4 separate regions of the Homo sapiens genome follow, and regions 2, 3 and 4 are each linked to region 1. Evidence: fine-mapped expression QTL. A gene starts in region 1. Each other region holds a variant in brackets. All regions are shown on one strand. Distances are between the middles of the regions.

The links.
Region 2: its variant is fine-mapped to the expression of THSD7B in subcutaneous fat (FUSION, PIP 0.95).
Region 3: its variant is fine-mapped to the expression of THSD7B in left ventricle (GTEx, PIP above 0.99).
Region 4: its variant is fine-mapped to the expression of THSD7B in lung (TOPMed, PIP above 0.99).

The regions. Positions count from the first base shown.
Region 1 is chr2:136,760,817-136,769,166 of GRCh38, forward strand. It overlaps THSD7B (thrombospondin type 1 domain containing 7B), which reads left to right and starts at 4,729. Exons shown (of 28, transcript NM_001316349.2): 1 at 4,729-4,871. RefSeq lists an enhancer at 4,711-5,212.
Region 2 is chr2:136,883,249-136,891,598 of GRCh38, forward strand. The region is part of intron 2 of THSD7B (thrombospondin type 1 domain containing 7B); the gene reads left to right. Among named protein-coding and RNA genes, the nearest start is that of THSD7B, 120 kb to the left of the region's middle. The variant T/TTGTG (reference allele first, on the strand shown) is at 4,052.
Region 3 is chr2:136,790,329-136,798,678 of GRCh38, forward strand. The region is part of intron 1 of THSD7B (thrombospondin type 1 domain containing 7B); the gene reads left to right. Among named protein-coding and RNA genes, the nearest start is that of THSD7B, 29 kb to the left of the region's middle. The variant T/C (reference allele first, on the strand shown) is at 4,356.
Region 4 is chr2:136,740,598-136,748,947 of GRCh38, forward strand. No RefSeq gene overlaps it. Among named protein-coding and RNA genes, the nearest start is that of THSD7B, 21 kb to the right of the region's middle. The variant A/G (reference allele first, on the strand shown) is at 3,630.

The sequences.
Region 1 (8,350 bases):
GTGGTACAGACTTCTAGGACAGGGATCAGAAGCAAGGGTCCCAGAACTGACTGGATGGGGCTGATCACTGTCCAGCCTCTCCACAATGCTGCTATATGACAAGAAGACAGAGCCAAGATCCTTCCAAATATTCATCAAACCATCTGGTTCTCTCTCCATTAAGCCACTTCCATCTCTTCCCTGGACACTGGCATCCCTGTTACACTCTTGCCATTTTCTTGGTTGCGGCACAGCATCAAGTGATCTTTTTAAAGTCTAAATTAGATGATATTGTTCAAAGAGATAAAACCACCCATTGGTCACAAGCACCTGCCCCTCTGCCCCTGCCTGCCTTTCCTATCCCACTGCACTGCAGTTTTTCCAGGCTTACTCATCTCCGGCTACCTTGGCCCCCGATGGGTTCTTCATGTGCCAACCTCTTCCAGCCATAGGCTCTTTGGCCATGTATCCTTCTTCTTCCCCTTTCTTGGCTGATGCCTGCTTATATGAGATGCAGTGTATCTTGGTGATTAAAAATGCACACACTAGTGCCAGACTGCCTGGCCAAATCCTAGCTTTTCTACTTATCAGCTGTGTGACTTTGAATAAGTTGCGTAAACTCTGTATGCCTCCACTGTAAAATGGAGTTGAAAATAGTGTCCACATCTTGGGGTAGTTATGAGGATTAAATTATATATATATATATATAACATTTAGCCTGTTGCCTAATATCTAGAAAAATCTTCATAAATGTTACCTCTCATTCATGATTGGGTCTCAGCCTAAATGTCATTTCCTCTGAGAGCTCTTGCCTGGTTCTGACCTTCCTTTCTACCCCTGCTCCATTGCATTCCTTTTTTATTGCAGGACTCTTTTCCTTTTCTTTCATATTATATATTTAGGATCATTTGCATACCTGTTTATTGTCACTGCATTAGACTATAAATGCCATGAGGGCAGGGACTCTGTATCACTGAATAACCAATACCTAGTGCAGTGCCAGGCACATAGTAGACACTAATCAAATATGTTGCTGAGTGAATGACTGAAGCTGATGGTTCAGGACTTCGTTTGTGAGTGTTGAGCGTCTGCTGGGAAAGCATTGGTGCCTCAGAGGGACTGAACTGGGCCAGAAGCCAGTGGAGTTCCACTACACTACTTTTCAATACATTATCTTTACATTGTATTTTAAGATGTTGACACATCAAAATCAAATTACTGGACCAAGCTCAAAAGTTACATTTATATGCCAGGATTAAATGTTCTTTTTTGGCAGAAAAAATGTTCAGATTTGCCACAGAATCTCTTCCAACCTGGAACTGGCCTGAATGAATTGTGTAAATGAGACAATCATGGTTCTTTTTCTCTTCCCCCTTTCCTCCTATTTTGTCCCCCAGAGTGACTGAATATTTGACTCAATTCGCTGCTTCAGTGGATGGGCCATTGTAGACCTGGGCAGCAACTCCCTGGGTGGCAAGTCCAAGATACTGGCTTATGTTTGCATTTATCACTTGTGTTTTAGATTGGGCTTCTTTATCTATGTGCCTTCTTTAGCTCTTCCTTGTTTAATGCCACTGATTGTTTATTTCATTTCCATAGCACTTTCCCATCCAAGCTTGTTAGACTATATGGAGAACATCATGTTCAGAAAAAGCAGTGGCAAACACACACGACAACAACAAAAATGTAAATTTACACTCTGCCTGTACTTGGCTAGCATAGGGTTACTTTTCTCCGTGATTCCTTAATGGGAAGACTCATTAGGTCTTCCCAATGGAGACCTAATCTCAACAGACTTTCTCCTTCTATCCCCTCTCTTCTGCCATTGTATTTTTGTTTTGTTCATTCTCATTGGAAGTCTGGTGGTGATTGGGGCCTTTGGCATCTGTGTGTGCAGGATTATGGGAATTTCTAATCTCAAGCTTATTTTCCAACCCTGGCACATTCAACTATTTCTTACACATAATGATGCCACCTTTGTTTTTTTTTAATCAAGCCTACCTTCTTCCAAATCCTTTCTTTGTTCACTTATTTTTAAAAATTTCTGTTCCTGCTCTTACGGTCTTCATTACTAATATTCCTTTCCCTGCCTAGGTTATCCTTTTAATGTTTCTAACCTAATCTAGATTTTGAGAGCAGTGTTTTTATTAAGAACCAAAGCTAACTATGTTGGCAAGAAACTCATATTATGAGTAAAATATACATTTAAAATATAAATTGGGAATTTGAGCTAGAAATGGAAAGAGAAAGTTAGAATGAGTCTTGTGCTTGCATTCTCCGTCTACAAAATTTGTATGTAATCACACAGATAAAGTTCAGACATCTTATACTCTTTGACTATACTGAAATATATGTTGTCAGCAGTGCCTTAATGAAAAGTGATTGTTCTCTAAAGGAATCAAATGTAACAAGTTTAACATTCATGGTTCTTTATTTTTCAAAAATAATTTAGATTTCATTCTCCTTTTTTATTTTAAGAAGCCCAACAGAATTACCATATGACTATAATCTCATATCCTAGATTCAAAAACCAGGAGACCAAACACAAACAATGCCTCAGAGGAGAAAAGTTGTGTCTTAAGAATCAAAGTATTCTTGGGTATCGTAAGTGATTGCTGACGTAGAGCAAAGGGTTAATGAGAATGGGCTGGCATATTAAATCAGAATGCACGTTGAAAGCAAATTGCCAGCCTAAAGGAAAATATACGTATCATTGTCTCTGGTGAGGGAGGGGGACAAATAACTACTAAGATGTCCATACATGCCATACTCAGAAGTCATCCTTGATATCTTTTTTTCCAGACAGATTGCAAACACAAGTCTTTCTCCCATATGGGGGTGTGTGTGCAGGGGGTGTGGCCTGAAAATGCAGCATTGATTCTGGGAAAACTGAAACCTGGGAAGCCTGGGTATAATAGTTCAAGAAAACAGAAATGTTTTTCTTTGGCTGTTGTTCCTGAAGTTACTTAAATGAGACTCATTGGCTATTGATCTGTATATATTGAGATTACAATAAAACATAATGGACCAGTTTCTCTCTCCCCTGGGTCACAGGATTGGCCTTTTATCTCTTGAGAGTAATAAATCATGGTCTTGGATTTAAGAAAATATTCTGGGATCTGGTTGGCAGCTGATTTATTTTTAAGACAGTGATGTCAGGAAAAAAAAAAAGCATAACCCAGAATGTGACTGTAGTGGGAGAATAGCGATTGCTGTTTAAAATATTAAGTAAGGCTTCCCTGCTTTCAGAACCCATCATCCCACAGCAAGCTGAGTTGAAGCCCCTTACCAATATATTCACATCTTTCTTTACAATGGCACTTACATTCTTTTGATTTCTTTTTATCTGTGACAGATCCTAGCTTCTCTATTTATCTCTTGAATCTAATTTGCTCTATGACATCAAGCTTTAATTTTATCATTATTATTTTGCTTCATTTTAAGCACCCATGGTGTGCCAGGCATTGGATAAAATAGAAAAGATACAATCCCTGCTGTCGCTGGGCTCACACATTTAAAGAGATTTGACAGGCAAAATATCCTGTAATTGGCAATAGGTAGTCCTCATGCTTCCCCCCGCCCCTTCTCCCTTTTGAAGCAACTTCATCTCTCTGAACAAGCTTAAGAAGTTCCCTAGATCAAAGGTGTCAAAAACCAGAAGGGTTTGGAACAAGTGTCAGAGAGTAAGCAAACGACTTTCTGAGCTGTGACTCTGCTCCTCGACTGCCCACGTGCTCTCCGCTGTCTGCACTCCTGCCTCACCTGGGCTGACTCGGACTCTCCACCTCCTTTGCTGCTTCCGGCATGAGCTACCCAGGAGCCTAAGGCGCTCCTTCCCGCAACTCCGGTCCCCGCGCCCCGGGACTGCAAATCCTTTAAACAGAGGCCCCAGAGCTAGGGGTTTTCCCAGGCTCTGGTGGGCGTGGGCTGACAGTCGCTGGGAGCCCCGCAACAGGGGGGATGTCCAGGCAGGTATGCACCCAGCTCCCGGCGTTTCCCGGAGTCACCACAATGTTTCCCTTTCTCTCTCCCCCACGTATGCTGCTAGGGGTACTCCCCAGATAGGATTTTCTTTGTCTTTTCTCCTAGTAACACCGAAGCCCTCTCGTGCCCGGGGACTGCAGAGGAACGCCAGACCATCCGGACCTTGCGGGATGGCTCGGTGTGTGTGTTTTACTGTGTGTCGGAGTGTCGCGCATGTGTGCGTGTTGGGGCGCGTTATCAACAGGGGCCTAGGGCACCCCCACTCTTTCTTGCTCTCTTCCCCCATCACTTCATGGACCTCCGAGGCGCAAAGCGCTCGACCCTCTCCTGGGCTCAGTGGCTTGGGTACTCCGGGCTGAGCTCAGCTGGGGAGTCCCCTTACCCAGCCCGCACCGGCACCCCGAAGCTTCAAAGTTGCGGCAAACAGTTGCGGGGAGCAGAGGAACTGAGGTCCAGGCCAGCGCGCCCGCGGTCGCTCGCCTTGGGGAGCAGGCTGAGCCGAGGGTCGTGCGGGTGCGCGGCAGAGGCGGTAGGAGGCGGAGGAGAGGGGGGAGAAAGAGGGGGCGGTGGGGAACAGCTGCCGGGGTAGGCGAGGCGCAAGGTGGCTCCCCGCGGCCCCGCGCCCCGCGGCTCTCGGACGCACCAGGCAGCCAATGGCTGCGCAGAGGTGTACAGCAGATGGCGTCTGACTGCGCCGTTCCTTCCTCCTCCTCCTCCTCCTCCTTCTCTTCCTCCTCCTCCTTCTCTTCCTCCTCCTCCTCCTTCAGTGCTGAGGAGCCAGAGTCGCCGCCGGGTTGCCAGACGCTGGAATGGGTGGTCTTCCGACACACACCACCATCTTTCTTGCGCTCGGGAAGCTCGGGGCTCAGCGGCTCCCAGAGGTTACGGCGGCGGCTCTGGCGAGACGGGTGAGTGCAAGCACGCGGAGCCCCGAGTCGGGGATGCCGGGCCCCCTGGCCGGCCGACTGGGGCGCGGGGTGGCAGCGCCGGGGAAGGGGGCGCGCTGCCGGCGCAGACTTTGCTCTTTCCTCGCCGGACAGCCATCGTCGCCCCTTCTCCCAGCCAGACGCGGGAACTTGGAAGCGGATCTTCTCGGACGCCTCTGGCTTGGGGCTGCGGGAAGCGTGGGCTGCCCGGGGCGCAGTGTGCGGAGACCCTCTAGGCGGGCGGGGACGCCCCACGCGGCGACCTGAGCACCGACCTCATGCAACGGGACCGAACCTTGGGACCCGGGCAGCAGGAGCTCTGTTCCCTTCACCTCCAGCTTGGTTTGAGGGATACTGATGAAGGAAACCGGGGGTTTCCCGTCCTGCGCGGAGAGCCTCGGCGCCCAAAATCGAAAGGCCGGGAGTTGTTCTGCAGGCTTTGCAAACAGGTTGACTGAGGGTTTCCTTTCCCGTAGCGCTGACTGCGAAATCTGTGCATAGGCGTTCAGTGCCAGTGGAGGATAGCTGAGCAAGCCAAGAAGTTTTGCAGCTTCCTCTGATTTATCGGTGGAGTGTCAGGAGGCTGTAGCAACAGTTTACATTTCCCCTGTCCCTGCGAGTGGCTAGGGGCAAGCTGGGCTCGGACGTGATATCCTGCTGTTTGTGGAGAGGAAACTGGGAACGGGGCTTGAGAGTGAGGGGCAGGGAGGGGGGGACAGGCATATTTTCTACTGCATCGCCCATCTGCACCTGTCCCCTTTGCTGTCTTACATGTCCCATAGTATTAAAGTTATTTGAATAAGCAAATGAACCCCGCTCTTTGGTGACCGCGTATTTTGAAGTTGGAAAACTTTGCAGGGGACGAGGGAATGTTGAGGAGGGGGCGTTAAGCTCTCTCACTCTATCCCTTTTTAAAGACAAGAAAAAAACTTTCGTTGGCGAAGGTGGTACTTTTTTCTTTTGGAATGTCTGAGCTCAGAGCTTCCCATAAGAGGTATTGCGATTCAATACTGTACAGTCAAGGTGAAGTTCCACTAAGATTATGGGACCGTGGCATATTCTACGGAAGATACCAGGGTTCCTTGGCGCTCTGTTCATTGCCAGGGTGGTCTGCTGAAAGCCGGCAGTTTCCCACCCTCAGACTCCTTGGAGCTCTTTAAATGACGGTCTGCCTGGTGTTTCTCAGCGGTACACCTGTGAGTGCTCTGTTATCATGGAAATGGTAACCCATGCAGGTAGGGCTCATGCCAACCAGACTGTGGTGGGGTGTGTGTGTGTTTGTGTGTGTGTGTATACATGCGCGTGCGTGTGAACGTGTGTGTTTGGAGTTTCCTTTTGACAGGTAATCTTTGGATGTCAAAGGGATACAGTTATTTGTCTGGCAGTGTCAGGGCAATCTGAGTTTCTCGAGTAACTAGGAGGAGGTAATCTCCAGGGAAGCCTTTTTGTGCTCTTGACTGTCTACTCAGCAGTTGGTGAAGGCTTCCTGAAAGCCACTTAGGGTGTTACTAACCAAATCAAGAAGTCTTACTCAGTGGTGAGTGAAAGCTCGTGTCTTTGTGGGTTAAAAGCTGTTTATAAAGTTTCTGTCTTGAGGCTTCACTTTGACAGACTGCTGTTTTTAAACCTTAGTGCCATTAATAATAGGAGTCTTCTTTTGAAAAGTAATGTGGCCAGTTCTCTGTTTTCTGAGGGTAGTTGATCTAATCTGGTAGATTCCCTGGAATTGTTTTATTTTCTATCCCTGGGAAGTGTGTGTGTGTGTGTGTGTGTGTTGTGTGTATTTGTGTGTGTGTGTTTTCTTCATCTACCTGCTGAGAGTTGAGGGTTAGAAACTCTTTTTCATGCAAATTTAAGTGAAAAAAATTATGAAGAAAATTCTTCTGACACTGTAACAATATACACAGATACTTCTGAAAAAATTGTAGGTGTCATTGTTGACTTTAAAAACATCGGATAGTCTCGTATAAATCAGCACAGACAGATCCAGCAGCCCTGAACACCTACAAACCATTCAGGGTTTTGGATATTCTAGATTAATCTGTGATAAGGGCTTGGAGATACGTGGTCCAGGAAAGGGCTGTCTACTGTTGGTGGACTTTGATAGTCTGTTTTGAGGGTTCATAATACGATGAGCTCACTTTATGTCAACCTTAATATTTAAATCAATACTTGAGAAATGATCTTACAATATTTCTTAATCTTCTGGCCCATTGTTTTCCATCAAAGTTGTTGATTGTTAGAGAGTTGAAAGGCTAAGAAAGAGGAACACTGTTAGACAGGTAGAAAATAATTACCGATCATATAAACAATGTAAATACAGACTCTACTGTTTGAAGACTGACATTAACAAATTGGTAACGAGAGGTACCTTTCTGTTCTCTGCTGAGTGTGCCTTTTGAGAGAAAGTAGGGAAGGAATGAAAGGAAAATGGTACTAAATTGTACTTCATCAGAAGGGCTATGAAGGACCTTGTCTGCTTGCTACAGATCCTATTTCTGAAGGAATAACTCTTTTGTTAATATCAGCAAAAAGAATGTTGTCCTTAAATGATAGACCGAAAAAGCAGAATAAAAAGATAGGCTCTAAGTTAAAGGAGGGAGAATGTCCAAACAAGAACAATTCTAAAGCATGTCAACTCACTTTAATTATACTTCACAAATTGAAACTGGAGTTGTATGATTCCTTTAAAGAAAAAAAGTCTTGCCAAAACTTCAATTCTGCTGTTCTGCACACTTTACAAAGATTAGGCATTAAAGTAATAACATTATGTCAAAAGTTTGAATAGAATGATGAAGAATATTTGACTGGTCTTATTTAGTTAACTGTGAAAATGACAAATGATACAATATATTAAATACATGATTAAGACAAACAGATTAAAGAATTCTAAGTAGTGACAACTATATTAGTTGATGGGAAAAAAAGAATAGCACTATTAAGGCTTCAGAGATGCTCTACAGACAAAGCATAAAGGCTGGGTCTTTGAATAACTATTGGGTATTGTATTATCAAAAACTACATGAGTTACTTAGATATGCTGTTGGATTTTTGAATATGGATTGCACATAAGTGCTTCATATTTTCAAAAGAAAATGTTTCCCAGTATATAACTATAAAAGAAGCTGCTTCATTAACTTTAACACCAGGCAGCTTCCTAAATATAACACAGGTCCTTAATTTAGAGCTGTTAACAAGATTAATATCTAAGTGATAATTAGCACGTTAAACCTGTGAAAGTAGAGGGATTTTTAACTCCACTTCTAGTCTAGAAATTTACTATTGTGAATTTTAGTGGGGTCTGTAGTTTAACAGATCTAAAATCACAGGCACCTGTGCTCCAAGATGATAAGCATTCTATTCCCACCCTTTAAAACTTCTCCATCTACCGAGATTATTTTGTGGACGTTTTAGTAGGATGTTCATGGGTGGTTATTCTTGAGAGCTAACAGTGGCTATTT
Region 2 (8,350 bases), 120 kb after region 1:
TGTCACCATGGAAATATGTATAAAAGTGATGTTTGTAATATTTAAATAATTTTGCAAAAATGAAAGTGAATTATGCTTTAAAGTCTATTAAGTAAAAAAAAAACACAGCCACCATTAGAGATACAGTCTGGATGAAATTTAATTGCATTAAAGCCCCTATAAATTAATTTAACTGTGGGCTCCAATACTTCATTACTGATTTGCATTTTTTTTTCCCTCAGAGTAGTTTTAGGCAGCTTTGGAAATAGTCCTGAAAGTCAGTATTTCCTTTCTGGGAATGGGGTTATTTTGTTTTAATCACAAAAGATGAACATTTGATCAAATCAAAATATGCACATTTTTATGACTACTGTCGAAAGTTTTAAAAAATATATGGTTAAAATGGAAAGTGGCAAATTTGAAAAACGAATGAGATGTGTTAAGAAAATGGGGTTATTTTGAAGCAAGTTTTAAAATAAGCGTGCTTTTCTAAAAGTAGGTCATTGGAACAAGATGGTAAAAACAAACTCTACAGTGGATGAATTTTTTTGGTAACTGTCAAACTTAAGTTTCAGAAGTGAGGATCCTTTTCATCATACATAACACATTGTTTAAAATGAACATATAAGTCACTACTGTCACTTCTCCTGGTATTCATTACTTCTTTCCCTCCTTACAGTGCCATCAAAAAGGTAACAATATAATTTTTTCCTATTTGGTTTTGCTTTCAAAGCAGATTACTTATGTATGACTGACATTTTAAAAGTGAAAGAAATCTAAAAGGTACAAAATTAAGAACAAAAGCTCCAATGTATCCCTTTCCAATCTCTTTTGTATCCTTCAGAAAATTTCCTTGTACATGTAAGTACACATTTATGCATGTTTATGTGTATGAATCACACAGAAGATACACATATAGTTATTAATTAGGTTCTGTTAAAAAAGAAACAGCACATGCGAAGTCGGCAGTTGAGAAGAGTTTCATAGAAGGACATTTACAAAAGTAGGCAAGTGTGAGCAGTGTGTAAGGACAGGAACAAGGGATTGTGCAGTGACCCTGAACTGTATCAGTTGGGAGCCTCTACAACTTCTGGGTATGTAGGGGCCAGGAGAAAGAGTGGTTCCCAGAATCTGGAGAGGTGCTTGACAAATGCTGTGGCTTTTAAAGGGATACAGCCAACCTGCAGCAAAATAGGAAGGAGGCCAGGGGAATGAAGGGCTCCACCTCACTTTCCTCCAGCTTTCATATCTGCCAGGCCTCCCATTGGATGAATTCAACCAAAAACCACAAGGCAGGGGAGCCCATGGATATATCCATTCAGGTAAACATCTTGAGCAGGAAGCAGGATGGAGAATGGTGCACCTGAAAATATTTAATTCTTCCATATGTGCATGTATGTATACACACATATTTCATGTAAGTGGAATCATACTCTGCACTGCTTTCTGCAACTATCTTTGATCATATAATGATATATTGATGAATATTACATATTAATGCACATAGGCCAACCTCATCTTTTAATGACTGCATAGTATTCTTTAGCATTTTTATTTAATAAATTTATCTAGTTTTCCTGTTGCTTTATCTTCTCTTCCTCTATTGCTTGGCATTTCAGTGGTTTCTAGTTTTTTTGCTATTATAAATAATGCTGACATGAATGCAGTATTATTTTAAAGGTAAGCAATAATAAATTGATTTAAGGAGTTATATCCCTAGAAAAATTCTAGTTTATAACCTTTGAAGACAACATCAACATCTTAGAATCTGTTACCTATTTACGGATGAGTTTAGTGTATTTCATTTTGATTTTTAACACTGTATTGCAGTTGAAATTAGCTGTATTTTTAGGGTATGTTATCAAATCCAAGAACTCAGGTCCAGTGTAATTTGGAATTTGAACAGATTTCCATGGAGACCCAGATAACTGTACTTTATTGTAGAAACCTAGAAACCATTCTCTGGGTTTTGATTGCTGTGTCAACCACTTTACTCTTTTGCTGGTGTCTATTGTTCCCCACCCCCACACCCCAAATCGGTAGGTCCGATGTTAGTCAACCTCATCCAAATTACAGGCATTTCTAAGTGAGTCCTGGCTTTGGAAAAACAATGGATTGATGAATAATAAGTGAGTGTATTATGTTTTTTAGGATTTCCATACTGAGGGAGAGTCTGCTGAGTTGTAGGCTGCAAGGTCATTGATCTGTCAAGGCTGTTAAATGCCTATCATTATTGTGATGAGATCCTATAATCTATATTGGTGTCAGACACTCTGTTAGCTGTGTCAAGAAAGAAGGATCACGTCAGCAACAGTATCAGATAAGGGACAATGTTGTTTGCGGTTTTAAGTTTCAATATAAAACTATTCATGCCTGCCTGCTTTGTGGAGATGAACAGATTATGGTCTCTGATCCCACAGTAAATTGTGCTCTCTTAAAAAATTCCTCAGTTTTGGTTCTAAGAGGTTCACTTATTTCTAGTAATACTTATTGAGTCCTTACTGTGTGTCAAGCATTGTTACAAGTACATGAGATAAATTGATTGAGAATAAAATAGGCAAATCCTCGGTCCTCATAAAGAGGGCAATAAACATGATCAGTAGTTAAATAGAGTATGCTAGATGAGGGCGAGTGGTAAGAAGGAAAAATGAGGCCAGGAGGAGGGATATGCAGTGGGAGCAGGGAGACTAAAAGCTTAAGGAGGTTGTCCATGAGCTGCCTGAGGAAGTGAATCTGAGTAAAGACCTGAGGGAAGTGAGGGAGCCAGCTGTAGATATATCAAGGTGAAGAAGAACATCCCAGATGGTGGGAACAAGAAGGACAAAGGACCTTAGGCAGGAGTGTGGGAGGCATACTTGAGGACATGTGGGGAGGCCAGCATGCAGGAGCAGAGTGAACATGGGGAGGGTGATGGGAGCTCAGGTGAGACGGGTAACGGGGTCCACATGGGGTATGTCCTCATAGGTCAGAATAAGATTTTGTCTTTTACTCTATGTGAGATAGAAAGACATGGGAGGGTTTTGAGAGGGTGGTGACATAAGCTGACTTTCTTGTTGACTTTCTTTTCAATAAGATTTGAAGAGGATCCTTGTGGGTGGCTGGCTGAGAAGAGCAGGGCAAGGAGATGAGGTAGGAGGCTACTGCAGAATTAAAGGGAAGAGCCATGGTGATAGCTTGAACCAAGGCCATGGCAGTGGAGGTGCGGAGAAGGAGTTGAATCTTGGCTATATTATATTTAAGGCCACAGTTATCAACCAAGGGTGATTTTGCCGTGCTGGGGACATTTGGCAATGCCTGGAGACATTTCTGGTTGTCAAAACTGGGGGTGCTACTGATGTGTGTTGAGTAAAATCCAGGGATGCTGATAAACATTCTAAAATGCACAGAGCAGTCTTCTACAATAAAGAATTATCAGGCCCAAAGAATCTCAACAGTGCCCAGGTTGAGAAACCCTGAGTTAAGATAAAGCCATCAGGATTTATTGATGTGGGATGGGTGATACTGACTTTGCCCTGAACAACTGGAAGAGTGGAGTTGCTGTCATTTAATATGGGCTGAGAAGGAGCTGGTATACAGGGAATATTAAGCACTCAGAATTGGGCATGCTACACTTTTGATTCTGTTAGAAATTCTTGTGGAGGTGTCGACTAGGAAGTTATGGGGTCTGAATTCAGGAGAGAGGTTTCTGCTGGAGATATAAATTTGAGAGCTACTACCAAAGAGGTAGGATTTAAATATGTAGTCCTAGAAATGAAGAGATTAGCTTGAAATTTGTGATCTGGCATAGGTAGAGGATAAAATTCTAATATATTTCCTTTTAGGACTGAAACGATGTTAAAGAAAATTGTTGTGGCAAAATATACACAACATAAACTTTACCATTTTAACCACTTCAAAGTATACAATTCAGTGATATTAGTACATCACAGTGTGGTGGAATCATCACCTCTATCTAATTTCAGAACATTTTCATCACCCCAAGCTATATTTTGCAAGTGAGCTTATAAAAAGTCTGGAAAACAAATTATGTTTTGAATAATACGTTCTGAAATAGAAGAAAACTCCATATTTG[T/TTGTG]TGTGTGTGTGTGTGTGTGTGTGTGTGTGTGACAGGCTTTTAAAATAGCCTTCAGTCATCCTAAGAGATTACTCTTGATATAGTTTGGATGTTTGTTCCATCTAAGTCTCACATTACAATGTAATCCCCAATGATGGAGGTGGGGTCAGGTGGCAGGTGTTTGGATCATGAGGGGGGATCCCTGAAGAATGGCTTGGTGCCATCCTGGCAGTAGTGAGTGAGTTCTTGCTTTATTAGTTCCTGAGAGATCTGGTTGTTTAAAAGAGAATGGCACCTACCCCCCATCTTGCTCCCTCTTGCCATGTGACACACTGGCTCTCCCTTTGCCTTCCTCTCTGATTGTAAGCTTCCTGAGGTCTCACCAGAAGCAGATGCTAGCACTGTGCTTCCTGTACAGTCTGTAGAACCATGAGCCAAATTAAACATTTTCTTTATAAATTACCTAGTCTTGGGTATTCCTTTGAGAAATGAAAACATACTAATACAAGTATAATACTAACACTAATACAGACTAATACTAATACAGGTAAACAAATGTTCAAATCCTGGTTGTCTAAGGGGAAAAAGTTGTTTAACCTCTCTGAGCCATATTTATCCATCTGAAAATGGATATTGATAATAAACACTTTACAGGACTCTTTGAGAATTAAGTAAGACACTTTGAAATACCTAATATATAGTGGCTATTCAATAACTGTTAGCTACTATTTCTATCATTGTTGTATAATAATTTCAGGTTTAAAATATTTACTTGTGCTTTTATGTTATACAATTTCTGTATACTTCTCTTAGACATACAAAAAAGAGGGGATTATTTGACAGATATGTGCACTTTATTAATAAATGGTCAAAATTATTTCACTGGCTTTTTTAGGTCTAAAACTTTATATATGCCAAACTCTAGGAAAGTTTTAATTTCAGTAGCTCATGCTCAATGAATAAAAAGGGTGAGGATAATGACCTGTTTCTAAGAACTAAGTATATAAATTGGAATTAATATTTTTGGAAAAAAGAGACTATGAAAATTGCATTGCATAAGGAATAAAGTATCTTACATATATTAATATTTAGTTATAGCTTAAATAATAGTGTTTTCAGCATTGAATGTACTTTAAGGAAAAAATTGCATTATGTATATTACCTATTTATATATTAAAGGTTAGGAATTTTAGAGAAAATAAAATGTTCTTAGGAGAGAGCTATTTTTTAAAATATGTGCTAGAAGTTCATGAAATTTTTTTCTGGAAATTTTACTTATGTTGACATCATTTTAATTACTTCCATGGATATTGGTTTATCTAAGAGGCATGAGTGTTAAATCAGCAATATCCAAAAGTATAGACATATGGCCTGGAGTTCACCACTAAAAATTCTAATTTTTTTATAGACCACAGTCACTAATTTTCCAAGGTTTCCAATAGGTCAGAAAAACATCCATCTTACCTAAATTGCATAAAATAAATTACTCTGCTATATTTTTTCTAAGTAGTATTAAAATATAGGCTCCCTGAGGACAGGGCATTTTGCTGGTTTTATTCACCAATATACTCCAAGTGTCAAGAATATACATAACCTATATAATAAGAATAAAATATGAAAAATATCCCCAGCACATTAAATAAAATAAGGGACACTGTCTTTTGGGGTGTGTGTGTGTGTGTGTGTGTGTGCTTGTGTGTGTGTACATGTATTTAGGGGAGTTGAGAAGAGATGAAAGAGAAAATATGACCCATCTTATTCTAGAGCTTGTAGTATATATTGAGGAGAGGATATAAAATGACTATAAATTAAAGTCAAACTTATAAATCAGTAAATGTGAAAATGTATTTCCATGTCACTTTATTCCAGTACCATTTCTGATCATCTCTGGAAAAGAGGTTGAACTCAATCTTTAAAAAACAGGCTCACATAGTTAAAGATTTAAATATTATTCTAAATCTTATAACAAGATATTATAGTTATATCTCACCTTCCAGTTCATTTACATAAAGAGACAGTTTCAGCTCTTTTTGCTGTTTATTCTGATATTCACCTTCATATTTCTAGGTAATATGCTCATGATTGATACTTCTTAGTTGATAGATATTAGATAGTTCCTATTGACTCTCTGTTATGTTAGTTAAGGATTTATGTCTCCTAGATCTACTCCTCTCCTCCTTACTACAGTTATTCAGAATAGTTCTATCAAAATATTTAAATCAACAAACAGTGCCCATACTCTTTGTAGTGTCCGCTGCTGAGCCAAGCAGTGTGCTGTGCACCTGCATCCTTTCTTGTTCAGCTTTTTCTTTTACATGGAAATGAAAAATTTCCTTCTTTATTGTTTTGCTTGGTTTTCTTTGAACCTACTGCTGCTTTTCCCCAAGGCTCCATCTGATATGTCACATGCCCATCATTAATTTATTCAAAGATTCAAGCGCAGTTCCAAGTGCTCTATTATATTTTTTTCTTTGGGAGATTTTCCCACAGTCCTGTCCCCCTGCACAGCCTGCATAGTCATCATCTGTGGAACATCCTTTTGCTCTCGATCATCTTGAATCCCTTGTTTCCTGTTCTGTTTCTCTTCTTTGCCTTTATTGTCGTGTTTTCCAGAACTGCTAAACGCATCCTCTAGTACTGCTAAAATAGGGTGTACTGGAAGTAATTTTTCAAATCCGTTGATGTCTGAAAGGGTCTTTGTGCTTGTCATATACTTGATTGATAGCTTGGGTGTGACATTCAAGGTTAAAAGGCATTTTTTCCTTCAGAATTTTGAAAGTCTTGCCCTATTGTATTATAGTCCCCAGTGCCATTACTGAGAAATTTGACGCCATTCTGATCCCGACTTTTTGCACATTGCTACCTGTTTGCTTGTTATTCTTTCTCTGGCATCTTTTTTTATCCATGAAGTCTGAAATTTCGTGATTATATGCTTTGAGGTAAGCCTGTTTTCTTTATGGTGCTAGATGTTTGTAGGATATTTCGATTGGTGTACTCATTGCTCATTCATGTCCATGTCCTACTCCTTCTTCTTCTTCTTCTTCTTCTTCTTCTTCTTCTTCTTCTTCTTCTTCTTCTTCTTCTTCTTCTTCTTCTTCCTCTTCCTCTTCCTCTTCCTCTTCCTCTTCCTCTTCTTCTTCTTCTTCTTCTTCTTCTTCTTCTTCTTCTTCTTCTTCTTCTTCTCCTTTCTTCTCCTTTCTTCTCCTTTCTTCTCCTTTCTTCTCCTTTCTTCTTCTTCTTTCTTCTTCTTCTTCTTCTTCTTCTTTTTTTTTTTTTTTTAAGACGGAGTCTCACTCTGTCGCCCAGGCTGGAGTGCAATGGTGTGATCTCGGCTCACTGCAACCTCCACCTCCTGGGTTCAAGCGATTCTTCCGCCTCAGCCTCCTGAGTAGCTGGGATTACAGGCATCCACCAACATGCCAGGCTAAGTTTTTGTATTTTCAGTAGAGACAGGGTTTCACAATGTTGGCCAGGCTGGTCTCGAACTCCTGACCTCAGGTGATCCACCTGCCTCAGCCTCCCAAAGTGCTGGGATTATAGGCGTGAGCTACCGTGCCTGGCCATGTCCTACACTTCTGAGATTTTTTTTTTATGCAATTTCCTCTTCTCTGTTGTGTGAATTCCTTCTGAAACTCCTTAGACAAAGGTTTGACCTCTCTTACTGATCTTCAATTTTTAGATAATTTCCATATTTGTGTTTTGTTTGTATATTTATTTTAATGTCTAAATTTTTTTTCTACTTCATCTTTTAACTATTATTTTGAACTTTTTTTATTTCTACAATCCCTTTTTTTAATTTGTAAGGTCTTTTACTTGTTCTATGATTTTTTTAAATTTCATCTTGTTTCATAGATGTAGTGACTTTTCATTCAGAGGATATTAAGGACAGTTTAATCTTTTTCCTTTCATTCTCTGCTTCCTCTGAGTCATTTTTTCCTGTTTCCTTCATTTATGTGTTTGATCATGGCCCCTGACATAGTGAGCTTTCTTCTAATGTCTATTAATTATTGGCTATCTCTTTAGTGTTTCACATTATTAAAAGCGAGGCACTAAAACTGATTCAACATTCCATGTACATGACTCAGCTGTTGGGCTTCACTGTCAAAATATTTTTGTGTGGAGAGCTGGCTTTTTTATTAGAGTATGGGTCCCTCAAATAATCTATATTTATCAATACCCAGAGTTTTTTCTCTGGAAGTCTATTCTTTAAGGTGGAGGCTAAGCAGCTGTAACAAAGATGCTCCCAAATACAGTGGTTTAAAAAGATAGAAGCTCAGACCTCTCTTATGTGAAATCATGTAGTTAGTGGTCCAGACTGGA
Region 3 (8,350 bases), 30 kb after region 1:
TTAAAATATTCAAATAGTGCCCTGACACTTCTACTGAACTAGATATTATTAAAAACCTAGATTTCAATTCTATAAAAAATCACATTTGTTCATCAAAGTTGAAGTAAAATCCTGCCTTCTTTATGAATGTTTTATCAATAGTTTAAGTCACAGTGATCTCCACTTTTATTGCAAATTTCTACAACATTTACAATTTCTGTAGGTAATAGAGCTTTCAATTATATACTGCCTTGTATCTTATTTTCCTGTTGTCTGTGTTAAAATATTTTCTCCATAAAAAGATGAAAGTTTTTGGAGATTCAAAGACTGTAATTTATACTTATCTCTGCCATGATAGTTAGCATATTGGGGGTAGTAAAAATGGTACTTAGGATGTCTAATCCAAATGTATCCAGGTTTTCCAGAGAAAAAATACAGATCAACAAAAAGAGCAAATAAAATCACAACATAACCTAGAGACCAAGGACGCTACAAACTGTGTATTACCTCTAAATAGAGAAACACCCAAGTGTAGCAGAGGAAACTGAGAAAAGAGGAGAGGGGAAACAGCGGGAGTTGATGGAAACAGAAAATATTCACTCAATAGAGGGAAAGTACCACTGACATTGGAGGCCTTAGGAGGAGGTCTAAGACTTTGTAGACCAGTGTGCCAGCTACTGGGGCACTGGAAGGAAATAACTGGGATGTTTGTGGGACATGACATGGCTGTCTCAAGAAGACATTGCATCTGGTGGAGAAGGGTGACTTGACATGGGGAGCTTCCATTGGAGAGTTGGTGATAATTGGAAAGAAAGAAGAAAGAGGGAATAATTAAGGATCCTACAGAAATAAATGAATAGGATAAAATAGAAAGATATAGCAACTTCTAGGTTTTCTCCCCTCCAAAAATACAAAACTACACTTTTTAATACCAGTAGTCAGTGCTCTTGGGCAAGGAAACCTGGCAAGGAATAGTTATGCAACCATCTCCACAACCCGGTAATTTTATTTTAATGACATCAAAAAAACAGGGTTTTTAAAAAAAATTACAACTTTATTGAGATGTAATTCGCATACCAAAGAGTTTACCCATTTAAAACGTACAATACAATGGTGTTTAGTATATATATGAAGTGGTGCAGCCATCACTACAATAAATTTTAAGCTATTTTCATCATCCAAAAGGAAACCCCATGCCCATTCACAATCACTCTCCCTTTCCTCTCAACTCCACTCCCTCCCCCGCCCCCCATCCGAGGCAACCCTAATCTACTTTCTGTTCCTATAGATCCTATAGATTTTCCAATTCTGGACATTTAATATAAATAGAATTATACAGTGCATGATCTTCTGTGACTGACTCATTTCACTTGGCATGTTTTCAAGGTACATCTGTGTTCATGAATATGTACCAGTATTTCTTTCTTTTTATTGTCTACTAATATTCCATTGTATGGATACACCACGTTTTATTTGTCAGTTGGTGAACATTTATATGTTTCTGCTCTTTTGGCTGTTATGAATAATGCTGCTACGAACATTTATGTAGTGTTTGTGTGGACATGTTTTCATTTCTCTTGGGTATATACCTAGGATTGGAATTCTGGATCATATAGTGACTCTATGTTTAACCTTTTGAAGAATTATCAGCTTGTTTTCCAAAGCATGATTTTACAATCCGACCAGCAGTGTATGAGGGTTTCAATTTCTCCACCTCCTTGCTAACCTTTGTTATTATCTGTCTTTTTTATCCTACTGGGTATGAAGTGGCATCTCATTGTGCTTTTAATTTGTACTTTCCTGGTGGCTAATGATGTTGTGCATTTTTGCATGTCACAATCTAGGATTGAAATTCCTGGATTCAATCCAAGGGTTAGAAGACTTCCATCACCCCCTAAAATTTCCTCTGTGAGGAAACTTAAGTGCAAATTGTAAGTGAAAGGGGCCAATCTGAAAAGGCAACATAATGAATGATTCCAACTATATGATACCCTAGAAAAGGCACAACTATGGAAACAGTGAAAAGATCAGTGGTTGCCAGGAGTTCTGGGGGAGGGAGAGAGAGATCAATAGATGGGGCACAGAATATTCTTAGGGCAGTGTGACTATTGTGTATGAAACAATAATGGTGGATACCTGCCATCGTACATTTGTCAAAACTCATAAAATGTATAACTCCAAGTGTGAACCCTGGTGTAAACGATGGGCTTCTGGGTGATGGTCTCGTGCCAATGCAAGTTTATAGATTGTGACAAATGTACCACTGTGGGTGGAATGCTGGGGAGGCTGTGCTGATGGGGAGACAGGGAGAGATGTGAGCACTCTGTATTAATTCTACTGTGAACCTAAAACTGCTCTAAAAAATAAAGGTTATTAAACCAAAGTTCCTCTGGGATTATTTTCCCCATTAATCAGCCTCTGTTATTATAAATCCCCATTTCAAACCCAAATAACCATTGATCTTTTTCCTGTCTCTGTATTCCTATCTCCTACTGCCTATCCTGAAAATTTTATAGAAATGGAATCATACAAATACAATGTTTTGTGTCAGACTTCTTTCTCTTACCAGGATGTTTTCAAAATTCATCCATGTTATTGCATTTATCAGTAGTTAATTCCTTGGTATTGCTGAGTAGTATTCCTTTGTCTTGATATGTCACAGTTTGATTATTTCACCATTTGAAAGTGATTTGAATTGTTTCTGTTTTTGGCTGCTATGAATAATGCTGCTATAAACATTTGGCTACACGTCTTTCTGTGTGGGCATATATTTTCTTTTTCTTTAAGTAAATAATATATGAGTGGAATTGCTGTGTTTTAATATAAGTTTAACTTTTAAGAAACTGCTGAATTCTTTACCAAAATAGCAGTAGCATTTTGCATTCTTACCAGTAATGAATAGGGTTTCCAGTTTCCTTACAACCTTGCCAATACTTGGTAATGTCCATCATTTTGATTTTAGCCATTCTTGTGTTTATGTAAGGTATCTCATCTTGGTTTTAATTTGCATTGCCTACATGACTAATGAAGTTGAGCATATTTTCATGGCTTATTTTCCATTGGTGTATCTCCTGTTGTAAAGTCTTTATTCACAACTTTTGCCCATTCTAAAAATTGGGTTGGAAGTCCTTTATCATATACGTAGTTCATAAATATTTTTCCCAGTGTGTGGGGTTATCTTTTGCTTTGTTTAATGGCATCTTTGAAGAGTAAGTTACTTAATTTTGATACACCAAAACTCACAGATTTTGTCTTACTTATGCCATGTTGATTGACTTTTGGTTGTTAAACCTATCTTGCATCACTGGAATAAATACCTCTTGATCATGTTGTGTCATCTCTTTATATATTGCTGCATTTCATTTACTAATATTTTGGTTAGAATTTTTGTATCTTTGTTTATGAGGAATAATGATGTGTAATTTATTTTCTTGTAATATCCTTCTTAGGTTTCAGTGTCAGGATTATCCTAGCCTCATAACATAAATTGGAAAGTATTTTTACTTTTTTTTTTATTCCATAAGGGAGTATGTTTAAGCTTGGTGTTGTTTCTTCCTTAAATGTTGGGAGGCATTCATTTGTAAAGCCTTCTGGGCTTTTGTGGAAAGGTTTTAAATTATAGATACAAATTTTCATTGTTTTTCATACATTTTGGTAATTTGTGTTTTTTTTGTGAATGTATCCCTTTCATCTAGTTTGACAGATTTATTGCTATAAATTTGTTCATAATATTCTCTCATTATCTGTTTCCGTGTGGTGATGCCCCTCATTAATTCCTGATATGTGTGCTTTGTTTTTTTTTTCTTGTTCAGCTTTGCTATGTGAGACTAGACAAAAATTTTGCAAATCTTTTCAAAGAAAGTCTGACTATATTGAATTCTGTATATCTGCTTTCTGTGTCATTAATTTTTATCTTACCTTTCTTATTTCCTTTTTATGTTTTCTTAAATTTCAAATTTTTTTTATTTTTCCTCTAGGCAGAAGCTTAGATAATTGATCTTTTACCTTTATACTTTTCTAATATATACATGTAAAGCCAAAATTCCCATTAGGCATTGCCTTAGTTGCATTCCATAAGTTTTAATATATTATATTTTTATCTTCATTCACTTCAAACATTTTGTAATTTCATTTTTTTTCCTATTTTCTTATTTAGAGGTATATTACTCAATTTTCAAAAAGTTGGTGGATTTTTCTAGTTATCTTTCTGCTTTTTATTTCTAAATCAATTCCGCTGGGGGCAGAGTGCATAATCTGTATGATTCAATCCCTTGAGATTCATTGTTTTGCTTTATGACCAAATGCATGCTTTATTTTGGAAATGTTTTATATGCCCTTGAGAGGAATGTGGATTCTGCAGTTGTTGAGTATCGTTT[T/C]ATACATATTTGATTAGGACAGTTTAGCTAATTGTGTTCTTCACATCTTCTACATCCTTAAGTATTTTTGTCTGCCATTCTTTCAGTTCTTGAGAGAAGGAGTTGTTAAAATCTCCAATGATGATAGTGGATTTGTCTAGTTCTCTATTTTTTTCCCTCAGATTAAAAAAGAATTAGGATATCCATGTCTTTCAGTTAAATTGACACTTGTACACTTATAAAATATTCCTATTTATGTGTAGTAAAACTTCTGGTCCAAGAGTCTACTTTGTCTAGCATTACTATAGCCATACCTGCTTTCTTGTGGTTAACATCTGCTTGATATACCTTTACCATCCTCTACCGTTAATTTATCTATATACTTATATTTAAGATATTTCTCTTACAGCCAACTGTATTAATTTCCTATTGCTGATGCGACAAACTGTCATAGCTCGTTGACTTAACAACAGCATAAATGAATTTTCTTACAGTTCTGGAGGTTAGGAGTCCAAAATGGCTCTCAGTGTGCTAAAACCGAGGTGTCAGCAGGGCTGTATTTCTTTTGGAGTGTCAAGGGGAGAATGCATGTTCTTGCCTTTCATCTTCTAGAGGCTCTCCACATTCCTTGGCTCATGGCTGCTTCCATCTTAAAAGGGGCTGTTCGAGGCTTCCTTACGTTGCATCCACCTGATGCTGACTCTCTTGCATTCCTGTTTGACTCAGAAGGACTCCTGTGATTATGTTGGGCCCATCTGGATAATCCAGAATAATCTTTCTGTTTTAAGATCCTTAGCTTAATCACATCTGCAAAGTCCGTTTTGCTGTGTGAGGTATCATATCCACAGGTCTTGAGAATGACGACATGGACATCTTTGTGAGGGCCGTTATCCTGCCTATTACACTAGCAAATAGTTAGGTATTGTCATTTTTATTATTCTGACAATTTTTGTCTTTTAATTTGACTATTCATCCATTTATATGTAATACAATTAATGGCACAGATGAGTTCAGGTCTACCATCTTGCCTTTATTTTCTATTTGTTGCATTTTTTACTTACTCTCACTCCAACCCCTCTCTCTTGCCTTTTTGAGAATTAAATGAGTATTTTATTATTCTATTTTTCTCTTCTAATCTTTTTAGTTATGCATTATTTTATGATTTTAGTGGTTACTGGAGAGATTTCAGCATGCATACTTATTATAGTTTATCTTGAATTAGTTTTATCATATACATTTTTTAAGTCCTTGGATGTTAACTCTAATACTTGGATCATATGTGAGTCTGCTTTTATTTTTTCCCCTTTGGTTATCAGCCTCATTTGCATATTACATACACACATAATCATATCTTACTCTCATTTACCCTCATCTCACCTAAAAAGTGTTCTGTCCTCTCTGAAATGTTAGTTCATGTAAACTTTATTGCTCCTACTGCTTTTTGATTTTTTTTTTTTAGGTATGAATTTTGAAATGTATCCCTTTTTAAAAGTAGTTTCCGTAGGACCTCTACAGGTTTCCATGACCTCTACAACTATCCTAAAAACACAAGACAGGAAATATTATTTATGAGGGAGAAAAGTTAAAGAAACTGGCATAGAGGATGGCAGGCTGATTGCCAGGGACACTGGCCTGAGCAGGGAAATGGCATCCACTGGTCTTTGAGGACACTTTCACTTGTTTTCCTATGATCTGGTAATTTCTTCGTGGGATGGTTTGTAAATTTTGACCTCGCATGGAAACTTGCTGGCGACCGTGGAATTTTAACAGTAGCCTCTGCAGCCATCTAATTCACACAGGTCTGAGGAGTTTTCTTTCAAAACTAGACTAGCTCTACCAAGGCCCCACTTAAAACCTTTTCAGAGGGGATTATGAGTGTTGGGTGCTACCTGTAGGTGACAGTAGAGAGTCATTCAGTTGTGATAAAATCTAATTCAAGATTTTCAGAGATTAAGTTCTAAATTATAAAACTGAAATATTCCCCAGTATTTTAACCTTTGTGCTTCTTATCAATTCTGGGAGTTTTGAGTTCCTCTAAAGTCAATATTTGTTTAGGTTTGGAAAAAGACCCATTATGAAGTTATAAGCCTGTTACAGTATGATTTCTGTGAAGGCTGAAGTCATGAATTTATCTTTCTCCTTAAAAAGCTTCCATTTTAAAGACTTGTGTTTTTTAATAGTAATTTAAAATTATAAACATAACTTTCTCTGCTTCTATATCTGGGACATATATGAAGAAGCCATAAATAAGGTTTGGAAGAGCTTGGGAGGGTATAACTACCAATTTTACTGGCCAAGATAGTGATATCATATTTGATCACACACACACACACACACACACACACACACAACCTAAAAAAACTGAAGACTCATTTGTTTTTGTCATGAAAAGAAATAATAATTAGGAATAAGTGAAATGTCTGGAACTTTTTTTATAGAAACCAAATTTTGTTCACTTGGGGACTTTTCAAGGACAATAGAGAGACACTCCTGTATATCACAGACCTTCAAATGCTGGAACAAGTTATTGAGAGTGGGTGAGAAATTATCATAATTATTCAAGTTTCTGCTGGTTGGTTTAGATAACCATCATCCCCTTCTTCCCTCAAGTCAAGGGAAAGATGTAAATAAACACTTTCTCTCACTCTCTGAAGGCCATGAGTCACTAAACCACACAAATTAAATAACCCTTCCATGTTTTGAATGAATGGACTTAAAAACCATTGGAGAAGGCGTAAGTCTTTCCATAGGCAACTCCATCTGAGTGAATAAACTCAAAGAAGATGTCTGGCTAGTGAAGTCTTACTAGTGCAGATGGAACTTCACAGAAAGACCATAGAGTAGGGCTTAGTTAAAACGAGCTTGTTCATGCGTTGCAGATGGGTAGGCCATTGATTATACATAATGTTGTTCATGGTCTTTTTGAGATTGGTGAAATGGAAAGCAGTACAATTTCATGCACATTTTAATCATTTTTATTGAGTGTTGGCGTTTGCATTTTTCTGAACCACTGGGGGACAAGTCATGGTTTTCTTTTTATTCTTTTTCCTTCAGTCTTATGATTCAAACAATGCATGTAGCCTGGTACCAAGTGATGCTTGTTTCAGAGCATTAGTACCTTAGAAGGAAAATGACATTGCCAAGTACTCTCTACCATATGCAAATACTTACAGTTATTTAACATCAAAACTTGTATATGAGATTTGTTGCAAACCTGTACTAAGTGGCCTGGTGAATTTTCTGTCCTGCTGTTTGTTATGTCTGACTTCTATTTGGAGGTGATTTATATATGAGACAAGTCACTTTCTCACTACTATAATTCTAGACAAGTATCTAGCAAAATTATGCATTCCAGTAGACTTATTTTTTCTTTCCCATGCTCTCTCTTATGACCATTTCCTACTTGGATGAGCATTTCTTGGGCCCTTACAATCAAGGATGCCTGTTGGTTTCCACACTATGCTGAGCTCTAAAATTATACCTTTTATTCAAACCTGATTCTTTCAGTTTGATTATTTTTCCACTCTCATTAGAATAACAGGGTTCAGAGTCTGGATACCTCAAATCTTGCATGTTAGCAACCCCTATTTTATACATTAGGATATGCCTGCCTTTACTTTAATGATAGACTAGGGTTGACTGGTTCCTAGCCACTTGGGAACAATTCCTTGAAAACTTTGTGTTCAGTTCTTTGGTTTCTTTGCATGATTATAGAGTTACAGATTGCTTTAGGCATCATAGATTGGATTTTGAAGGGAGCGATTATGATGGGTAGGGAAAGATCTCAGTATTCCTTAAAGGAGTCACTAAAGCATGTTGAGTGGGACAGTTCTTCACCTGTCAGACTGTTCTGCATATTCCAGAATGGTTAGTACCCCTATCTGCTTCCCTGTCTTCTAAATGGTAGTTTCTACTTTTAGTTAACGACTCCCTCCAGAGGTGGTACTGTCTCAGGTCAGGGACCACTGACCTGATATCAACACTGCGCTAAAAACAAAACAAAGCAACCACCTCCA
Region 4 (8,350 bases), 20 kb before region 1:
CTTAGGTATATCTCCCAATGCTATCCCTCCCCGCTCCCCCCACCCCACCACAGTCCCCAGAGTGTGATATTCCCCTTCATGTGTCCATGTGATCTCATTGTTCAATTCCCACCTATGAGTGAGAACATGCGGTGTTTGGTTTTTTGTTCTTGCGATAGTTTACTGAGAATGATGATTTCCAATTTCATCCATGTCCCTACAAAGGACATGAACTCATCATTTTTTATGGCTGTTTTCTGAATAAAGTAACTAGCCTATGGCAGGCTTACATCCAGAGGTAACCATGGTTATGATTATTATATTCTAGATGTCTTGGGCTAGGTCCTTGTCAAAGCAGAGCTGGAGTCAGAATGCAGAGTTCTGGGTGATTTGAGAAATGACCTCCGAGAGTAGGAGTAGGGGCTGAGAAAATAGAAGAAATAAATAAATAAAGGAGAACAAATAAAGTTTACCAAGTTGGCTGCAGCTACAGATGATGTGTTCACTCTTGTCAGAGACTTCTGGAGACTCTTATGAAATATGTCTCAAAATTGTCTTAAAAGGGAAGTATTTATTCAGCGACTCCCAGGCAGTGATGGGCAAGAAGAAAGAGGCACGTGACTGGGGCTTTAGCTTGAGTTTGGGGCATGGCGTTGGCATTGTTAAGTTGCAGCCAAATGCAAGGGGTGGGGTCAAGAGAATATGCAGTGTTGCACAGAGGTGTCAAATAGGCTGGAGGACATCCAAGAAAAACAAACCCAGGCAGTCACATTGCTCACAAACTTGGGAAGATGACAAACACATGTAAAATATCTAATGCATTGATAACTAAATTTCAAGTGAGAATTCAAGGATCTGCTGGTGATAGTAGGCCTGTTTTAATTGCTTCTGCTGCACATCCTTTGAACTCTGTTCTCATATCACATCAGCTGTTGGGGTTTAGGGAAATAAAAAGAACACAGAAGGTTCCCAACCTTGAAATGTAATAAAAATTGTAGGAGTAGATCATTTTTGCTGTCTCTTCCTACTCTCGAATATTGTGTAAACCATTCTCTTAAAGCAGAACTCCAAGAACAGAACGTTTTGGATTTAGATTGGTCAGCAAATCTTTAACTAGAGAAGGAAAATGAAATATAGATGTCTTGAATTGCAATTGTGTTCAGAATAGAGCACTCCTTACAATTTTTTTGGACCAAAAGATTGTTTAAGTGTTCTGAACTGGTGGAAAATGATTTTAGAGAGAGAGAGAGATGCCTTCTATTCTCCTACCCCCATAGCTATTAGAATTCACATTTATAACAACTTTTTGTCCTCTCCAGAAGAAAACCCTTATTCACCTGTAAGAATAGCCAGTGTAATATTAGCTTTTACAGGTTTCCTGGTAAGCCTCTATAAAGAACGTCTATATTTCTATAAATACTGTGAGTGTGCTGGCAGAAGCTTTGGGCATTGAAAGCAACATTCACAATGAGGAAAAATTTGAGACTCAACTGTCATTCAGGTCTGTTTTAAACATCTTCTAAAAAGAGTGAAATTCACTTTAATAAGTATGCTGAACATTAAAAAAATATATATTCAAATGTGTAATTATAGACCGTCCCTGACTCATATGATGGCTCGCTTAATGATTTTTTGACTTTACCATTGTGCAAAAGTGAGACACAGTTGGTAGAAACTATGTCTGCTTTTGAATCTTGGTCTTTTTCTGGGCTAGTTATATGTGGTACAATATTCTCCTGTGATGCTGGGCACTGTTGGAGAGACATTCTGCTTTTCACTTTCAGTACAGTATTCAGTAAATTACATGAGATATTTAACACTTGATTGTAAAATAGGCCTTGCATTAGATGATTTTGCCCAACTGTAGGCTAATGTAAATGTTCTGAGCATGTACGCTGGGCTAAGCTATGATGTTTGTCAGGTTAGGAGTATTAAATGCACTTGACTTGCAATGTTTTCAACTTAAAATATTTTCAGCTTCTGATGGGTTCATTGGGATGTAACCTCATCCTAAGTAGAGGAACATATGTACACACTACTGAGCAGGCAGTATATGTAATCTAAATAATGAAAAATTTATGGTCCTTTATTACTTAGTGAAGTATTTTAAAGTGACAGGCTTTTATTATTTAGTGAGAATTTAAGAGCTCATTGGCTGAAAATAGTGAGTGAAAATTTTCATCTCTTTTTCCAAGGTCATGTCATAATTTAAGGTTTTTTTTTAAATGATATAAACTCTACAAAGCAAAAGGGAACTGGGATTTCAGATATTTAGATATCTAATTCTTGAATTATTTCATGTTTTATATATCATTAATTAAGGAATTAACTACTTAATTAATTTTTATTAGTACAACTTTATGGAGTACGTGTGAAATTTTGTTACGTGTATATAGTGTATAGTGATCATGGTAGGATATTTAAAGTGTCCATCATCTGAGTACAATATATTTTTGTTAACTATAGCTATCCCACTCTGCTATCAGACACTGAATGTATTCCTCCTGTTTGTATACTTTAACCCACTTCTCTTCATCCTTCCTTTCCCTCACTCACCTTTTCCATTACTTTAGTCTTAATGAAGATATATGTATGTGGGTGTTAAATATAACATGTCTCACTTTAATGGCATTTGTTTATGCCTAATTTAAAAATAAAATTGTATATATTCATTTTAATCAAAATGTCTATCAGTATTTTTTCAGTTTATTAATTATTAAGTTGCTTTTCTGTTTAAAACTGATTGTAGGTTCAGGATTCTAATTTTCTCTAAATGCCTATAGTTTTTTAAATCTTCCATGATAAAATTACTTGATATTTTGGAGATTCTTTTCCAAAAATATATAAAATTCATCAATCATATCATAGGTTTTCTTTGACTAATATGAAGGATTGAGCTATCAAAAAAGTTGGGTTTAAATTAACTCTTAATTAGGAAGAGAAAAAATTTAAATTCTGTGATTGTGTTAATGGCAAACTGGTAGAACATGTTTAACTTTAGCAGTTAGGTTTTGTCTATTCTCAGACATCTTTTGTCTTCCTCCTAATTACTAGAATGTCAGTGCAGAACTCAGAAATTAAAGCAGGAGATGAAATACTGAAATAAGTCTTTTGTTGTTGTTCTATTGGCTTGAGAATGAGAAACAGTTTCTGATTCTCACAATAATGAGTCAGAGTCCTTGTTTTAAGATGATAAACTGGAATATTTTGGATAAAATGCTGAGTGAATTAATGCCATTTCCGGAGTTAATCAGCAGTGCCTGTGTCTGCACAGAATTATGAGTTCAATTCTTTCAACTGAAATAATTGGTCACTTCCAACAATAGATTTGAGAGATTTTTAAGGTCAAAATGAAAAAAGACAGACTGTTTACATGCATTACATATTCACTGGGACTGAATTTTCCACTGTATTGACTAAATGACCTAATTAGCAGCTAGGTTAAGCATTCTGTCTACATGGATGACCTTCCAAGCATAGCCCACACATGGAGAGTGCAAGACCAATGTCTGGAGATATTTAGTTTGTGTGAGAACATGGCCCTATTTTGGTGGAAAGCCAGCTTCTTGCCTTTAATGTTGCTAATTGTGTCTAAGCTCATGTTCTCCTTTTATTTCGGAAGCATTGCTGCTTGTTACATATCTGTAAAC[A/G]CCTGGGAAATGACATTTCTAAGAATAAGAATTACACTCCCTTGGGAGATAAAGATTGGTCAAAAAAACCTTTTATCTCCTATAATTTTGGAGTCCAGCCTGAGCGAACTGTTGGCCTTATTTCAAGGGCTATGTCTCTACCAGTCCATCACGTGGGGATGGCAAATAAAATATTTAAGTAGTGTTTTTGGAAACTTCCGCGTGTTTTAATATTTTTTATCTCCTCTTTCAGACAAAACATCTGAACAAATGAATGTAGATGCTGTTTTAAATTGGGCAAATTTTAAAGCTGAGCTACAGACTTTCAAAGTGAACTTGTAGATTAAAAGAAGTACAGTATTATGTTTTCCTCTGGCACTACTTTTAGAGGTTTCATCTCCCTTCAGATCCATGTGTACGTGTCAGGAATTGGCTACTGGTTCACTGTTATCAACTCTCTTAGAAAGATTCATTAATTTTATAACACAACATCTCTTAACAATGAATAGTTCTGCAAACAGGAGCTTCGTTATTTTATTCATCTCAAGCCTGCTTGGCATGCTGCAGGATTCTTTGGGAATAGAGCTTTGCAGGATGAGACTATTCCCATTTTCAATAACTCTTGCATCTGTTCTTGCAGTGTCATCAGTAAAGCAAATAATAAACCACTCTCAAGAAAACCTATAAAAGGGCTCTCCTCCCTATTCTGAGCTACAGCATAATCCTCCTAAAGACCACTCTTATCAGATTCAATGAAACAGTGTAAGCAAATTATTTTGGCTATTAACCAGTCAAATCATAGAAGGAGAATGAAAAAAGATGCCTGTGCTTTCACACTGGGGAGACCTTGCTTTAAGTACTAAATCTTGGATATGTTACTCGATCTCTCTGAACTATAGTTTCTACATCAGTAAAATGGGGACAACAGTGGCTTCCTCATAGAAGTGACATAATAATTGCATGAGATGGTAAAAGTAAAGTGTGAATGCACACCATCAATTATTGGCTGATATTTCAGTCAACAGTTTTATTAGTTAATAGACTTCCTGCTTTAAGTGATGAAAATCCAACTCAAATAGCTTAATAATGTGATTTACATGTCACATAGCAAGAAGTCTGGAGGTAAAGCAGGCACAAGTTCGGCAATTTCAATGGCACAATCACGCCCAAGGAGGTCCAGGTCCTTCCAACTTTCCACTCGAAAGTTCTGAATATGCTTCCTGGGCTAACTCCCTTCACAAGTCACAAGATGGTCTGTTTAGTTTTAGGGGTTGTATCTTCATTACTAAATGTCCATAGTCAGAAAATGAGGTTTTGTAGCCTAATATCTCTTGTAATTGTTCAGAAGTCCTTCCCAGGAGCCACCTGTCTCCCTCATTGGTAACTTGGTTGGGCTTGTGTCCCATGCTTATGTCCCTGCTCCCCAGACACACTGGGAAGACAAGTGGCATCACCATGATTAGCACTGACCAGTCCTGACTTGTCCCCTGGGTTAGATGGGGCTGGAGATGGGGTAGGCATCTGGACATACCTCCTGATTCAAAGCTATGCAATTACTATTAACAAGATATAAAGAGAAATAGTTGGTGGACAGATAACCAACAGTTTCTTACACAATTACCCTCTTAAACTCTACTCTAGACTTCCCATAATACCAAATGCTGAGAGAACACAAAAGTTGCTCCTTGTAAGGTGTAAGAATTGAATTGGAGGAGACAAAAGGTTTGAAGCCAACTCTAATGAAGTGTCATACGGTATACAGCAGTGCTTCTCAGGCTTTAACGTGCATACAAATCCCTTGGGAATCTTACTAAAATGTAAATTCTAATACAGTAGTCTGGAGTGGTGCTGAGATTCTGCATTTCTAAATGCTTTCAGGTGATGCTGCTGCTTCTGGTATGAGGACCACACTTTAAGGAGTTGAGACATAGACCGCATGTGATGCTAGATGTGTAGGAAGAGTGGAATCTGGATCATTCTGAAGTGTTTCTCAGAGGTGGCACGATACTGTGTGAGCCCTAAAGCTGATACGATTTTGATAGATGGAGAAGACAAAATATAATATGATTTGGGATCTTTTATGGAAACACATTTGCTAACTTGATAATACTAAGGACAGTAATGTGGTTATTAAGACACAAAAACAGAGTATATATTTCCTGGATTAAACAGCAGGCACACCATGCCAGAAAGCCATGGCTGTTAGGATTACCTGCTCTTATATACTTATTTTTTGTCTTAATGCCTAAAAAGAAATAGACAAAGTAAAAGTACATTTGTACCTCAGAGCAGAATAGCAAGTTACAATAACTCAACCAGGATTTGGATATATTTTCATGAATGGGAACAGGTCTTTTCCTAAAGATAAATTAACCTTTTTGAGATTTTTTGGTATCTTTTATCCCTCAAAATAACCCAAACAAAACTTTACCACTATCTTAATGGTTACATTTTTTCTTTCTTAATGCTATGTGTTTTCTGAATAAATTAGTCACATGAGTTCTTAGAAAATCAAGAATTCAATAAGGGAAACCAAAGCAAAGAGTAGATATGTTCTTAAAATCAACTTCCTCTTAAAAAGCGTGTACATATGTGGGTAAAAAGGCCATTACACCAGTTGACATTGGTTGACCAGCCAATAGCCCTGCTGAGGCAACACATCCATGTCCCTGAGTTATAATGATGTCATTTTTCTTTTGGGGATGTAACTGGAGACTACTTGAGAGGTCAAGAACAACAAAGCTATAAAAGGTTAAAAGGAAAAAAAGATAATTATGGAATGTCATTGCTGACATGTTTCTTGAGAAGCTTTCCATCCTCCCCCGTGAAGGCCAGGAGGCTGGTGGTTAGGAACATCAGGGAGACTAATGCATTTTTACATGGGATAGAATGAACAGCAATGGGGAGTGGAGAAAATAGAGGAGATACTAGCTCTGAATTTTGGATTATTATGCATTTGGTGGCTTGTACTCTGGAATAGTATATTCTACTATTACACATTATATGGTATTGTTGATCAAGTGAAAAAATGATAGGATTGAGTAATCAAAATAAATTAAGCGTGGAGGTCAGGATGCTAGCTTTGGCAGTCCTGCGAATTACCTACCTGGTTCTCAGTTTCGTCACCTGCAAAATGAGAGAGTTGAACCTGACAGTATTCCCCAAACCTGCCAAACATCAGAATAATCCAAGGGGTTTATTAAAAGCACAGATTCCTTGGATGCACCAAATACCTGCTGAATTAAGATTCCTGGAGTGGGGTGGGCTCAGGATGGGGCCCAAGCAATATGCACTTTTAAAAGGCTCCTTTGCTGATTCTCTTGTACCTCCTCTTCCCATGTTCGAGGACGCTAAGATCCAATTCAGCTCCCCAATCCTACGATTTTAATGTGACAGGGTGGTGATTTAGAAATAGAGAATGATTGAAAGGAAAATTATCTGGATAGCCACAACAATAGTATTCTTAAGTTATCAGTTTACTGTGAAATGGTTTTCACAGTGGTTGGGCTCCATGATTTGCCTCAATCTTGCCGCATGTCACCTTTGCCTTTGGGAATGGCCACCTATCAGTGCAAAACTGATTTGGAGGCAGAGAGGAGAGATAAACCACTTTATTTGTACCCGGAGATCCTGGTCTGCATTTATTCAGGCACAATTAAAAACAGTAGGGTTTCCCAGTTAACATTTTGTAAAGCTCACAAAAGATTGTTATTTTGCTTATTGCTTTGAAAGCCTGTCTGGGAGGAGGCATGTTTTGATGAAAGTATTGTCTTAAATCTGCAAACGCAAAATTGTGTGATGGCTTATGCATCAGAGGGTTGGTTCTAAAGCACTTTGTGGTCAACTCCAAGGGCCAGTTGAGAGCAGGAACTGTTCTTTCATCCCTTCTTCATAAGCTGCTGAATGTGTGCTTCTTAAAAGGACAGGCCTGTTTTCCTTAAAAGCTATTGTTGGAGTTTTGTAATTTTGGTGGTGCTTTTACTGCCTTATTGACTGTTAAAATGGCACCCTAGAAGTTTCATTTAGGGGAAATACATGCACATCTCATAGGGTGGGCGGACCTTCTCTGTATCTGTGCCTTTAAACTAGGCCAGTGGCTGCTGCACACAGCTGGCACTCAGATCCAAGGAGCTTTGCTGTTCTGGCTGATTTCTATGTTTGCGACAATTACCCTCTCTCACCACCTCCAGCCCTGCTCTCACAGCCCAGTTGTGTTAGTTCCTTTCCCCTCTATTCCATGTCTGTACTTACCTGGCCTCTGGCCTTCCCCATGTCTTCTACTCTTAGTCCTGAGGACAGAGTTAGAATTTGAGTGGTTTTTTTTGTCCCTGTTTCTTAGACCCAGGTAGTGATTGCCTTCTGACTGTATCTGCTACTTCAAGTGACTGTCCGCTGAAGAAAACTCCAGTCCCTATTTTTACATCATGGATGGATCCTTCCCCCTCCCTCCCTAATTCGTACCCCACTAAAACAACTTCCTGACATTCGGTCTCTGTGCCTGTGCATGGGGACTAGACTGATGTATGAGATTTGTCTTATTGCAGACATATCACAAGATGGTAGAATTAATAGTCTAACTCACTGCCTATCTAACTTTAATGTGCAGATGAATCATCTAGGGATCTTATTAAAATGCAGATTCTAATTGGGTAGGTCTGGGTGGGCCTCTCTGAGAAGCTCCTAGGTGATGCAATGCTGCTGGTATACATACCACATTTTTTGTAGCTAGGGTATAACTGATC